Homo sapiens: one gene and its partner. The protein of the gene in region 2 interacts with the protein of the main gene of each other region in a biochemical or structural test. Each region holds a gene or a part of one and is shown on either strand. Other genes may lie near its edges. The genes, in order: CTRC and ST13.

The links.
Region 1: of the proteins of ST13 (region 2) and CTRC, one has a biochemical effect on the other in vitro, tested with the Homo sapiens proteins (one study listed by BioGRID).

Annotation. Positions count from the first base shown.
Region 1 is NC_000001.11:15,441,167-15,448,443, reverse strand, and holds part of CTRC (chymotrypsin-C preproprotein), read right to left. Parts: intron 5,998-7,277; coding exon 5,872-5,997; intron 5,026-5,871; coding exon 4,889-5,025; intron 3,839-4,888; coding exon 3,693-3,838; intron 2,848-3,692; coding exon 2,695-2,847; intron 1,870-2,694; coding exon 1,855-1,869; coding exon of another isoform or gene 1,673-1,854; 3' UTR 1-1,672.
Region 2 is NC_000022.11:40,846,462-40,853,738, forward strand, and holds part of ST13 (hsc70-interacting protein), read right to left. Parts: intron 4,420-7,277; coding exon 4,362-4,419; intron 1,909-4,361; coding exon 1,833-1,908; intron 1-1,832. UniProt on the Homo sapiens protein: One HIP oligomer binds the ATPase domains of at least two HSC70 molecules dependent on activation of the HSC70 ATPase by HSP40. Stabilizes the ADP state of HSC70 that has a high affinity for substrate protein.

The DNA of each region.
Region 1 (7,277 bases), on a different chromosome or scaffold from region 2:
TGGCGTGAACCTGGGAGGCGGAGCTTGCAGTGAGCCGAGATGGCACCACTGCACTACAGCCCAGGTGAGAGAGCGAGACTCTGTCTAAAAAAAAAAAAAAAAAATTAGCTGTGCATGGTGGTGCGTGCCTGTAATCCCAGCTACTTGGGAGGCTGAGGCAGAAGAATCACTTGAACCTGGGAGGTGGAGGTTGCAGTGAGCTGAGATTGTGCCACTGCACTCCAGCCTGGGCATCAGAGCAAGACTCCGTCTCAAAAAAAAAAAAAAAAAAAAGAAGAGGATAGGTGGGAATGAAGTTTAGATTAAGCAAACTTAAGAAGGACTACGTTCTGTACTTGGGTACCTTCTAGTCAAATTTTAAGACCAAGCTTGGGCATCATCACCTCCAGGAAGCCATCCTGGATTCCTCCCGCCAACTGACACTGCTTCAGGTGTCCTGTTTCTATGCTTCTGGTCTGTATTTCTGTTTTCAAATGTATACCAGGGAATTTAATGATCTATTTACTGGTCTGTCTCCTGCACAGCTGGGGTACCCCCATCCTGGATTCCCGGGTCTGGGTGGTGCTGGGCTCCCTGTAGCTCCCACTGCTTGTTGAGTAAGTCAAGTCTTTCCTGAGACTTGCCTTGGCATCATGGGGGTGTGGGAGTCACACCATGGTCCCCACTCCCAGGGGACAAAGTCTGGTGGAGAAAAGGGACAACTCTTGGGCCAGTCTGAGGTAGCTGCAGCCGAGGGCTCTCCAGCGAGGGGTCCAGAGGCTGGGCTGGGGGCACCCCCACAGAACAGGACATTCCCAGGAGCAGGCCAGGCCAGAGGCCCCTATCATCAGGGTCTGATCCCCCTGGCATGTCCCTCCCTGGACATTGGATCTCTCTCATCTCTGGCTGCCCCTGTCATCAGGGTCTGATCCCACTGGCATGTCCCTCCCTGGACACTGGGTCTATCTCATCTCTGGCTCCTCTTGGCCTCTTGTCAGCCTCAGGAGAACTCTCTTCTCCTGGATCAGGCATTGCCAGCTATCCCAACTCCTTCCTCTCTCTGGGCCTCAGTTTCCCCACTTGTCTAATGCAATGAAAGCATATCCAGCTCTGACCACTGTGATTCTGTGTGGAAACCATTGCCTTCTTCAAACGTATGTCTCCTGAGGATGATGCTGGGGTCTCTTCCTCTTCCTGTACCCTCATCATGCCCAGCACAGGACTGGACACAGGGGCTGGCTCACTAAACACTTCTCAAAGCAGAGAGCCCCTGCCAACAGCAGCCATGGGGTCTGTGCTGCGGGGTGGGGGTGGGGGGTCCCTGCTAGGGAGCCCCTTCCCCAGGAGTGGTTGTCCCTGAGCTTTGGCCATCCTCCTGTGGCCTGGTCTCTCTGGCCTGGGGGACGCTGCTTTTGGGGAGACCCTGTCTTCCACCTGCTGCTGGGGGGCTGTGAGGACCTGCCAGGCCCCTCGGTGGAGGTAGGATCGGAGAAGCGAGTGATTTCATCAGGGTCTCACCTGTTCGCAGCTTGTGAGATGGAGCGGGGAAGGTGTCTGATGCGTCCTTCACTCCCATCCCCTCCGGCTTCACGCAGGACTCCCTGGGCTCTCCACCCCAGCCCCCTGCCTCCCATTAATGCCCCAGGAGGCTCCTTCCTTGGCCCTCTCTCCCGGCCTCTGTTTCCCCACCTGTCTAATGCAGGGTGGGGGAAACTGGCTGAGTGGGGTCTCTCTTTGGCTCCATAGTGTGGAAAGGGGCAGCACCAGAGAGGAGGGAAGCAACAGAAGCTGCACAAATCAAGGATCCAGGTGGCCCGAGGAGAAGGAAGTTTATTGCTGTTGCAGGGACTCGCTGCCGCCGCTCCCAGCAACAAATCACAGCTGCATTTTCTGGAGGAGCAGAGAACAGTGTGAGAGACTCAGGGCTGTGCCACCTTCTAGGGTGGCACAGGGCTCTGCCCGGAGGGTGGGTCCATGGGGGCATGGCCAGCAGCCCCCGGCCTTCACATGCCAGCCTTGTCCCTGTTCAAGGGGTCTGAGGCCCTCAGCATTTCAGGCCACTGTGCAAATGGGTCTTGGAACACACTCTGTCCCCAATGGGGAAGCCCCCAGCCCAGGGTGACCCTCTGTTCCCCTACTCTCAAGATGAGAAATGGCCATCCACACCATCCCTCTCCTCTGCTGGGCCATACCCTCAGGGGGTCAGTTTTTGGGGGAGACTGGTGTGGGGCCTGGATGGGGACATAAGTGCTTGATGAAGGCAGTGAATGGATGGATGGAGGAGTCAATGACTGTTTCCTTATTGGCACCCAACTCAAGGCCTGCTACTGGAAGCACTCAACCAATATTACTTGAATGAGAGAGTGAATGTGTGAAGAAGTGCATGAATGAATCACTGAATGAGCAAATGAATGAGTGAATAAATGGATGAATGAGTAAATAAATGCATGAATGAATGAATACATGAATGAGTGAATGAATAAGTGAATAAATGAATGAATGAATGCATGAGTGAATGAATAAATGAATAAATACATGAATGAGTGACTGAATAAGTGAATAAATGAATGAATGCATGAATGAGTGAATAAATGCATGAATGAGTGAATAAATGAATGAATGAATAAACGCATGAATGAGTGAATGAGTGAGGGGATGGGTGAGTGAGGGGGAGGGGCTGACAGGTGCAGGGACAGCTGTGGAGGCAGCACCCACCTCGTTGATCCAGTCGATGTAGGCGGACACCCGGGTGTAGACTACCGGCTTCTTGCGGGTGTTGCAGCCCCGCCGGGAGCCAAAGCTGACGATGCCAAACACCTCCCAGGAACCGTTCTCCAACTGGCAGTTCAGTGGGCCACCGGAGTCCCCCTGCACCAGACCGGGAGGGCATAAGCCACCAGGCCCCCCCCCAGAGGAAGTCTTGGGAAGCAGGACTGGGTTGGGGTGGGGGATGTGGGTTGGCTTCTCAGCCTTAGTTAGTGGACAGATTTGGCCTCAGCCTGCCCATGGTGAGGGAGGCAGAGGAAATGTGGTTTGCGGCTGCCTTGGCCTTATTCTGGGAGGCCCTGGGGTGTCAGACTAGCTCTTGGTTTGCTGTGTGATCTTGGGATGATGTTAATCCTCTCCGTGCCTCAGTTTCCCTAGCTGTTCAGGTCTCCTTATCTAAGACTCTGTGAGCTACTCAGAGCAGTGAGGATGCAGGCAGCTGTGCTAGAGGCCTGGGAAGGTGAGGAAGGAGGGTGAGAATGGGGAGAGGGTTGTGTGTTTGAAAACAGGACATTCCCTGATTGTCTTAGATGTTTTATGGTTCTGGTCTCCCTGGACTGGTGGAGCAAATGCATGGAGGAACATGTGTAGAGACTTCAGTGAAGCCTCTTCTCTGTCCTTTAAACTCATTTAGTCCTAACCCTGTGAAGTGGTTACTGTAACTCCATTTTACAGATGGAAAAACTGAGGTCAGAGGTTCAACGGCCCTCCCAAGTTTACGTAGCTCATAAATGGTGGGACTGGGGCTTGAACTCAGATACTCGTGCTCAATGCTCATGCTCTCACCACAGTGATGGGGGGTGATGGGCTTACCCTGAGCCTGCTGGGCCCAGCCAGGGCTCGCTCAGTCTCCTCCCAGGAGAAGGGTTTGGTCCATCGCACCCCCCTTTGCCCACATCCACTTGGCCACTTGGAGTAGGGACAAGGTGCAGAACCTAGCCACTCACATTGCAGGCTGAGATGACGCCATCGCCCCCAGCGCACACCATGGTTTTCTTCACCCTGAAGCCCCACCAGTCAATCCTGGAGCACGTGGCGTGATCCACCACGGGCTGCAGGCCCTGCTGCAGCTTATCAGCAATGGGGCCGTTGGCTGGGGAGAGAGTGAGCAGTGACCAGGGAGGCAGCCGGGAAGCCCAGTCCAGCCCCTCCCCAGGCCTTCAGGGAGCAGATGCCTGGGACAGGACCCAGGGGAGCGCCGGCTGAGACAGTGTGCGGACCACACACCTGCCCTTCATCAAGAGGCAAGCCAAGGTCCCAGAGGGTCAGGAGCAGGCTGCCGGCAGAAGGAAGCTACAGTGTTGAGTTGAGTTGTCTTTAAGTTGGATTCTGGGGATTTAATTGTCAATAATTTCCTGTGGGTCTCTGTCTTTGCTGTCACCCATTAAAAAGCCTTTCTCACCCCCAAGATTTTCTATTTCTCTTTCTTTTTTTTTTTGATACATACAAGGTCTCACTCTGTTGCTCAGGCTGGACAGCAGTGGCAAGATCATAGCTCACTGCAGCCTCAAACCCCTGGGCTCAAATGATCCTCTCACCTCAGCCTCCTGAGTAGTTTGGGACTACAGGTACACACCACCATACACTGCTATTTAAAAATTTTTTTTTTGTAGAGGCAGGGTCTCACTATGTTGCCCAGGCTGGTCTTGAACTCCTGGCCTCAAGTGATCTTTCCTCCTCAGCTTCCTAAAATGTCGGGATTACAGGTGTGAGCCGCCACAGCTGACTTCTCCCCCAGGATTTTCTAAATAGTGATCTGCATTTTCTAAGTCTCCCATAGTTTCATGATTTGCATTTAACTTTTAATTCAGCTGGGACCTATTTGGGCATACGGTATACCACAGATGTCATCCCCTACCCCTAATGGTTTATTTTAGTTTATTTATGTGACACTTACTATGTGCCAAGTGCTGTTCTGAGCACTTGACAAATTCTAATTCGTCTAAACTTTACCACATCTCTCAGAGACCCTTGCTAGAGTGTCTGTCACATGGTATGTGCTTAGTAAATATTAGCTGTTATTGTTACAAAGTTTACAAAGACATGAAAATGTGAAGGCAAAAAGGCAAAGTGGTGGACAAATGTGGGTGACGTCCTGCTTCCTTCAGGAAGGCTCTCAGGATTTGCCAGGGACGATACTCACTCCAGAGGCGGCCCCAGCCGGTGACATAGCAGGGGTAGTCCTTGGGGAGCAGGGAGTCCTTCTCTGGCAGGCAGGCCACCTGGATGGTGTCACTCAGCTCCACATGCTCTGCAAGCTTGATGAGGGCAATATCATTGCTGGAATCCAAAGTGGAGAGGGTGAGTGGGCAGGAGGGCCCTGGCCCCACAAGCTCAGGCTAAGGGGCTCGGGCTGTGAGTTGGGAGTCAGGCCCAGGGTGCTCAGGGGTCCTTCACAAACATCCTGACTGCCAGCTTCTTCTTGGCCTTTGGGAATATCAGGACAAACGATTCACCATCTAACATGATCACCCGCACTGTTGACATAGCTTCTTCTCACATGTCATCACCTCGGGAAAGGGTTAACAGAGGGAGGTGAGAGTGGAAGTGTCCGAAACCACTGCTGGCTGTGGGTCCATTGAAACAGAGGCTATAGCAAGTTGAGAACTCTAATGCCAAAAGACGGCACTTGCAGATGCCAGTTTTAATATTTTCATGTTACAAGAATAAAAGCTGGCCGGCCCAGTCAGACCTGGTTTGATTCCTAGTTCTGCCACGAAGTGGGCTGTGTGGCCTGGGACACAGTTCTTAACCTCTCTGAGCCTTGGTTCTTTGTCCAGGGCTGTTGTGAGGATTACATAACAGATGGCATATAAAGTGTCTATTGCAATGTGGGCATACAGTAGGAACTCAATAAAGGTGAGCGCTGGCCCAGCCTCTGGAGAGACACTGTGGGGGGCCTTCCTTGTGGACTTTCCTGGGAGTCTTGGCCAATGAGGGGGATATGAGGGGGTATTTGTCTCCACTTAGCATTTTGCCATTTTGTGTAAGACAGTCATTTGCTGGCTTTCCAGGGTGAGGATGGGGTGTCAGGTATGGGGTGCGACAGGCTCTGCGGCTCCGTCTTGGGGACCCCTCCTTCCACACTGCCCCCAGTGGCTGTGGGATGGGCAGTCTGTCACTCACCGCAACAGGAGGGCATTCCATCTCTTGTGGACGTGGATGGTGTCCACACCCACAAACAGGGATCCTTCTTCGTCTTCCACCTCCAGGTTGTTCTTTCCCACGGCCACACGGTAGGTCCGGGTGTTGCTGGGCAGAGGAAGGGGTCCAGGTCAGGGTGGCCCCCTGGTCCTGCCAGCCAGTGGGATAGAGAGGGAGCTCGGGGCTTTAGTGGGACTCATTTTGGGGGAAGAGAGTGTTCCCATTGTCCTTTCCCAGGGTGAGGGGAAGGGCCTGGGACTTGGGGTCAAGGGACTTGGGTTCATGTTGTGACTTTGCTGCTCCTGGCTGTGTAGCCTTGTGCCTCAGTTCCCTCATCTGTAAGGGGGAGGCAATGCTGGAACTTACTCCCAGGGCGGCTGTGAGAATAAACTCATCCAAGCTTCCACCGCCCTTGCCTGCACAGTTGCGGCATCCATCTAACTATCTCTCACTTGTACGCTGGCCTACTCCTGTCTATTCTGAACCCAGCAGTGTGGGTTTAAAAATATCTCCGGCCAGGTGCGTTGGCTCATGCCTGTAATCCCAGCACGTTGGGAAGCCGAGACGGGGGGATTGCTTGAGGCCAGGAGTTTGAGACCAGCCTGAGCCACATGGCAAATCCCCATCTCTACAAAAAATAGAAAACTTATGGTGAGGTTTGGGCTTCTAAGTTAAAAAACAAACAAACAAACAAAAAACAAGAAGAAAAATTAGCTGGGAATGCGTGGTGGCGTGTGCTTATAGACCCAGCTACTCGGGAGGCTAAGGTGGGAGGATTGCTTGAGCTCAGGAGGTCAAGGCTACAGTGAACCATGATGGTACCACTAAATGAGACTCTGTCTCTACCAAAAAAAAAAAAAGTGTATATGAAATATATAAAATGAAATATGTTGCAATATATATTTTTTATAAAATATATTAAAAATATTTTATGGAATATATAAAAATATGTCAGCCCACAACTCTCCTTTGCTCAGAAACCCTTCCAATAGCTCCATCTTACTCAGGGTCAAAGCCAAGGTCCTGATACTGACCTGCACTTATTTCCTCTCTAGCTCACCTCCCACTCTCCTCTAGCACACGCTGCCCCTGCCACACCGGCTTCCGCGTTATTTCTCAACCATACTGACAGGTCTCTCCTCCAAGGCTTTGCATGGCTGTTCCCTCCGCCTGGAACACCCTTCTCCTAGATCCATGATTTCCTCCCTCACTTCCTTCAGGCCTTTGCCCAAATAACCCCCTTTTAGCTCTCCGAAATGTCCCAAATATTTGCCAAATATCCCCCTTTCAGCTCTTCCCCTGGCCATCCCTTTTAAAACTGAACCCCTCATTCTGTTTGTCCTCTTCTGACCTTATTTTTATTTTTTATTTTTTTGAGACAGAGTCTC
Region 2 (7,277 bases):
ACACGGTAAAAAAATTTTAATCCATTTTTTAACAGCAACTAAGCTTGTCTATCAAAGTTTGATTTGTATACAAAAAAGAAAACACTTTTAGGTGGAGAGTTGGTTAAAAAATTTATTGTAGTTTTAGAAACTGGTAGAAAGTAAGACTAAAGAGGCATTTTATAAAAAGTAAAAGATCTTCAATTTAGCACTCAAACAACTGCCAGTAGAATGTAAGACCTCTAATGATATCAAAGATAATTTGATTCAGGCCAGGCGTGGTGGCTCACACCTGTAATCCCAGAACTCTGGGAGGCCAAGACGGGCAGATCACCCGAGGTCAGGAGTTTGAGACCAGCCTGGCCAACATGGTGAAACTCTGTCTCTCCTGAAAATACAAAAAAATTAGCCAGGCATGGTGGCATACGCCTGTAGTCCCAGCTACTCAGGAGGCTGAGGCAGGAGACTCGCTTGAACCCAGGAGGGAGAGGTTGCAGTGAGCCGAAACTGTGCCACCACACTCCAGCCTGGGTGGCAGAGCGAAACTCAAGTCTTCCAAAAAAACCCCAAAAAAACAACAAAAAAAAACTGATTCAAAATTTAAAACATTTCAAGTACTTTTCTTCAGGTTCTGTGATATAAGAGACTTCCAAATTCATGAAGAAATTTAGTCAATTTGTGGCCAAAAAACCAACCAAACTCATAGCACAGATAACTACTCTTCTAAATATGAACCAGTTTTATCAACATGGTTGTAAGAACTAAACAAATACTATTTTTTGGCACTCAATTCAGTTATGGGAAAACTTTTGGCTGGGCATGGTGGCTCACATCTGTAATCCCAAACACTTTGGAGGCCAAGGCAGGTGGATCACCTGAGATCAGGAGTTCAAGACCAGCCTGACCAACATGGCAACATGGCAAAACCCTGTCTCTACAAAAAAAAAAAAATACAAAAATTAGCCGTGCCTGGTGGCACACGCCTGTAGTCCCAGCTACTAGGGAGGCTGAGGCATGAGAATTGATTGAACCTGGGAGGTGGAGGCTGCAGTGAGCTGAGATCACACTGCTGCACTCCAGCCTGGGCGACACAGTGAGACTCCGTCTCAAAAAAAGAAAAAAAAAAAAAAAAAGAAAACTTTTTAAGTATGCTTAGAACAACTTTAATATGTAACCCAACTTTTTCTAATACAAACATTATGAAGTCTGATTTATTATCAATGAAAATGTAAAACCTGAATTGAGGGGTGCCACATGTGTAAAATACCCTTTGGAGTTTGAATGCTATTAAAAAAAGAAGCAAAATAAATTATTAACAAATATTGAGGCCAGGTGCAGTGGCTCACGCCTGTAATCTCAGCACTTTGGGAGGCCAAGGTGGGTGGATCACGAGGTCAGGAGTTCGAGGCCAGCCTTGCCAACATGGTGAAAGCCCGTCTTTACTAAAATTATAAAAATTAGCCGAGTGTGGTGGCAGGTTCCTCTAATCCCAGTTACTCGGGAGGCTCAGGCAGGAGAATGGCTTAAACCTGGGAGGTGGAGGTTGCAGTGAGCCGAGATTGTGCCAGTGCACTCCAGTCTGGGTGACAAGAGCACGACTCCATCTCAAAAAGAACAAAAAAACAAAAAAAAATATTGATTACACATGTCAATATTTCAACCAATATGCCATTAATATCTGAATTTATTTCATGTTTCCTTTTACTTTCTAAAATGTGACTACTAGAACATTCTAAGTTTCATATGTGCCATTATATTTCTATTACACAGTGCTGATTTAAGTCACTTTAATAAAAATCAACAAAGTATCACATCATAGGTTTTCAAATACAAACTAACTACCGTCTCCTCACCTAGATCACTTTCCTCACTTGATGGTTCGTCTGCCTTTAAGTCTTCCTCCACCTTCTTACTATCAGGTTTTTCTTCCTAGCAAAGGGAAGACAAACAGTACTATCAGTATTTAATAACATACCGAATATTTATACTAATTTCTACAAATCTATGTATAAACTGTCAAATATGGCCAGGCATGGCGGCTCATGCCTGGAATTCCAGCACTTTGGGAGGCTGGGGTGGGTGGATCATTTGAGGTTAGGAGTTCAAGACTAGCCTGGCCAACACGGTGAAACCATCTCTACTAAAAATACAAATTAGCCGGACGTGGTGGTGCCCGCTTGTAATCCCAGCCACTTGGGAGGCTGAGGCAGGACAATCACTTGAACCTGGGAGGCGGAGGTGGCAGTGAGCTGAGATCATGCCACTGCACTCCAGCCTGGGCGACAGAGCAAGACTGTGTCTCAAAAATAAAAAAACAACTGTTCAAAATAAAGTTTGAACATTGACAATAAACAGTTTAGAGATTATAAATAGCCTCATGTCCACTCACATTATATTTTATTGCCAAATTTAGTAAAAATCTTTACAAGGGTTTTTGAGTTTTGGAACTGCAAATAAGAACCTGTGGAATTACAATAATAAACAATGAAAATTCAAAGAATTTAAAAGTGCACGACATATAGAAAGCAACACTTTCTTCCCATCCTATAAATAACCAGTGTGGTTTCTTGTATATCCCATTGCAGGATAGTCTCTCTATATATGAAACAACTCTATCCTTTGCCTTTTGCATTTAACAACGCTGTGTATCTTGTAAATTATATACCATTATCAGCCTACCTTCATCTATTCACTCAACCATATATTGTTAACCATTTTTAGGTTGCTTCCCTGTTACTTAAAAAATTAGAACCAAGGCAGGGCGCAGTGGCTCATGCCTGTAATTCCAGCACTTTGGGAGTCCGAGGTGGGTGGATCACGAGGTCAGGAGATTGAGACCATCCTGGCTAACATGGTGAAACCCCTTCTCCACTAAAAACACAAAAAAATTAGCCGGACGTGGTGGTGGGCACCTGTAGTCCCAGCTACTCAGGAAGCTGAGGCAGGAGAAGGGCGTGAACCTGGGAGGCAGAGCTTGCAATGAGCCAAGAGATCGCACCACTGCACTCCAGCCTGGGCAACAGAGTGAGACTCTGTCTCAAAAAAAAAAAAAAAAAAAAAAAAATTAGAACCAAAAACCTACCTTGTCACAAAATATTTGTTGAGTCCCTATAAAATGTGCAAAGTCTAGGTATTCTAGAATATATTGAAAAGAAAAGACAAGCCATAATTCTAGTTTAGAATGTTTTTCTTACAAAAAATTTTCAGCTGACACATAGGTTAAATATAATTTTGCCTTCATACACATTTGCCAAATAGCAAAATATCTAGGGCTCAGAAAATACCACTCTGATAAATGGTCCTTTTAAAAAAAAGGTAACTACTTTTTGGGCTTTTGCTTACCTTTTCGCATTCTCCTTCTTAATAGACATAACTTCCACTTTAAGATCCAAATAGATAACAATGTTTAAGTTTCTAAATAATAAAACAGCTATTTTCTTGTCGATTTAAGACAGCTAATCAGAAAATTTGCAAAAAAAAAAAAAGCCTTTTAGATATGAAGGCAGAAGAGAGAAATAAAAAATTATGAAGAAAGCATTCTGGGCCAGGCATGGTGGCTCACGCCTTAGTCCCAGCACCTTGGGAGGCTGAGAGATCAGTTGAGGTCAGGAGTTCGAGACCCACCTGGCCAACATGGCGAAACCCCATTTCTACTAAAAATAGAAAAATTAGCCAGGCATGGTGGGATGCACCTGTAATCCCAGATACTCGGGAGACTGAAACAGGAGAATCGCTTGAAGCCAGTAGGCTGAGGTTGCAGTGAGCCGAGATTGTACCAGTGCACTCAGACCTGGGTGACACAGTGAGACTTTGTCTCAGGAAAGAAAAAACAAACAAATAAAAGAAAACATTCTTAAACATGTATGTTCCCCTTCATCTGTCTCTCAACTTCAGCTACTGGTAACCTTCTCCTAATCTTACACGTCCTTTAAGCAAATATGCTAACCCAACACCATGATTCACACTCACAAATATCACTCAGGTAGTAGAGCAAAAAAATTAAATTACTGACCTGGGATACTTCATTTACTCTGCAAATAATAAATAAAGTACCTACAATGCATATGACACACTGTAAGGCAATGATGAAGACTACGGATGCACACCATCACGGAGCTTACCACTTACAGGCCATACATGTAACTTTTATTGTCATGTATTCTAAAACAGTGAACATCCAACCCTAAATTCTCAGTTCTAAATCAGAATCCAGAGAATTCGGGTCTACAAAGTTATAAAGATAAAGAGGTCTTAAAAGGTCTTATTTCCAAGTGATCTTGGGGAAATCAGGAGTGATAACTGGAGAGCAGCAGTTTAAAAACAACCCCTAAGAAATCTTATAGTACTTTATCACAAAACATACAAATGAAATTAAAACTTACCTTGGTATTTTCTTCTGATTTAGCTTTCTGAGTAGCAGGTGGTACTTTACCACCCATGCTTGAAGAAGATGAGAAAAAAGATATTTGTTTAGAAAATTAAAATTCACTGTCACGCAACGTATTTACACCTAAAAAATAACGTTAGACATTTAGATGACTACCTTTTCAAAATTTAAAAGTAAACTCTCAATTAATCTGAATGCTGTGGTATTATTATGGTTAAATTTTTTCCAGCTTAAAATTTATTTTAAGGCTACTGGCTAATGAACCCCTTTCTTTGCCTCAATGAGTCAAATAAACATAATGTATAGCTTCTCTGTGCCTCTTCCCAGAGGAAAAGAGGCAGATATGTCAACATGCAATGACAAAATCATTTGCACAAGCTGTTAACTTAGAATTCAACTCAGTAGGTATATCTGAATCCTAAATTTGAAACTTGAAATAAGAGTTCAATTAAATTCAAATATGCAGTTTATGAAGTAACTATACCGTCATGATATAATTCAAAATGTTTGTGTCCTGTGACTGAGACCTATGAGAATTTTTCTTGCTTATATTTGCATGCCCATCACATTATAGATTTTCTCCTTATACACCCCTCCCAACCTCATCCATTAATACTTCCTCCTGACCCTACAAACTCTTCTTTCCCAAATAGTTCAGGGCAACACAATTCATTATAAGCAAATAACTAGAAGAGAAAAATTACAAAGAATTAGCGTTACATGCTCCATTTGGTGCAGACCCTATAGTATATGGGCTACCTGCAACAATCCAGTGACTAAAATGGTTGATAGACTTAAGAGCACTCCACAACAGTTGGAAGCAACGTAGACATTATTAAAATTTGCCTTAAAAACAAACAACAAAAGCCATTAACTATGTAAAACAAGGGGATATATTAACTTTGAAAACAGAAAGGGTTCTTTTTTTTTTTTTTTGAGATGGAGTCTTGCTCTGTCACCCAGGCTGGAGTGCAGTGGCACAATCTTGGCTCACTGCAACCTCCACCTCCTGGGTTCAAGCGATTCTCCTGCCTCAGCCTCCCAAGTAGCTGGGACTACAGGGTGCATGCCATCACACCCAGCTGATTTTTTGTTTTAGTAGAGACAGGGTTTCACCATGTTAGCCAGAACGGTCTCGATCTCCTGACCTCGTAATCCGCCAGCCTTGGCCTCCCAAAGTGCTGGATTTACAGGCATGAACCACTGCGCCCGGCCTGATTCTTTGTAACTAGAGTTGTCATATCCACACTTACATTCATTTCAGTTGGGTGGAATTTGTGGTCATAAGGGTATGTGCAGGCTGAATTTAAATGGGCATCAGTTTTCTGAAGTTCTTTTATCAATTTACACTTTTATCAGCAATGTATGAGAATTCCAATTGTTTCACGCCTTGGCCAATGCTTAGCTATTGTCCATCTTAAAGATTTTTTAGCCATTCTGATAGGTGCCTACTGGCATCTCATTGCAGTTGAGTCCCTTTTCATATATTTACTGGTCATTTAAAAAGACTTTTTTGTACAGTTCAACTCTCATCCAGCTTTCTAATAGATTGTCCTTCTTTATTTGAAGGTGTTGTCTGTATTCTGCATATGAACCCTTTGTCAGCTTTATGTGTTGCAAATATTTTCTCCCACCCTGTAGGTTGCCTTTTCACTCCCTTAGTATCATCTGAGAATCCCAATATGAAGCAAAAGTATAAATGCAAAGTAGCAGATGGAATGAAAAGAAACAGAATTTGGAATTTCTTATAAGCACCATTCAAACGAAGAAAATGTGCCTACTTTTTCCATTATGTTTAATATGATAGAAGAAAATGTTACACAGTACCCTTAATATGGAATAGCTCCCATGTCAAACATAAAGATTATATGATCCAAAACATCCTAATCTGCAATTCAGCAAAGTAAAATGATTTAATGATAAGGAACAGGCATATAGACACCACAAAATTCTTTTCTATGGAAACACTACTTTGCAAAAGAGCACAGTAATCACCAGTCCTTTGTAGTTAAATTTTAATGAAGACACAGGGTTTCTTACACTGTGTTCTTCCTAAGTTTCAAAATGCAGCGTCAGGAATGTATTTAGAGTGACATCCAGACATAGTATAACTTACAGTACACTAACTTTGGGAAGTGATATTCCTGCCAAGAAATGTATTAAGCTAAATCCAATCCTAAGGGAAGGCCAGACAAACCCAAATTGAAAGTCTATAAAATAACTTGCCAATAACATTCAAACTGTTAAGATCATGAAAGTCAAGGAAAGACTGAGGAACTGTTTCAGAATGGAGACTACGTGACATGGCAACTAAATGCAACACATAAATCTGAGGATTAGATAGCATAAATGCATCAGCATTAGTTTCCTAAGTTTAGTATTTGCATTGTAAAGACTTTGTAGGAAGTACACACTCACTGGTGTTGGGGTATAATGTTGGCAGCTTACTCTCAACTAGTTCAGAAAAAATTCCTTTGTACCATACCTGCAATTTTTCTGAGCTAGAAATTGTTGCAAAAAAAATAAAAACTTTAAAAAAAAAAGAGGATTTACTCATAAGCTAGATTTAGTTTCTCCCATCCCAAATTCTAGTTAACTAATGGAAGAAAACACCAACTCATAGGTACGAAATTTCAATTAATGCTTCCAAGGCTTAGAACAAGCTACTTTCTGGCCAAAAACTGCCACTTAGACTTTGGCACTACAGGCTTTTTTATGTTACACAATCAAGTAGGACCAGTGTAGAGACTTTTCTCACATAGGACCACATAAAACTTCATTCACATTTCTCTTAATTTGATAACCTTCTAATCTGCTTTGTGCTATGGTTATTTGTACACATGTACAAAAAATTGGTTGCTACACTCTAAATTCTATATTGAGGGTAGAAATGCATTCTGTTCATTTCCTT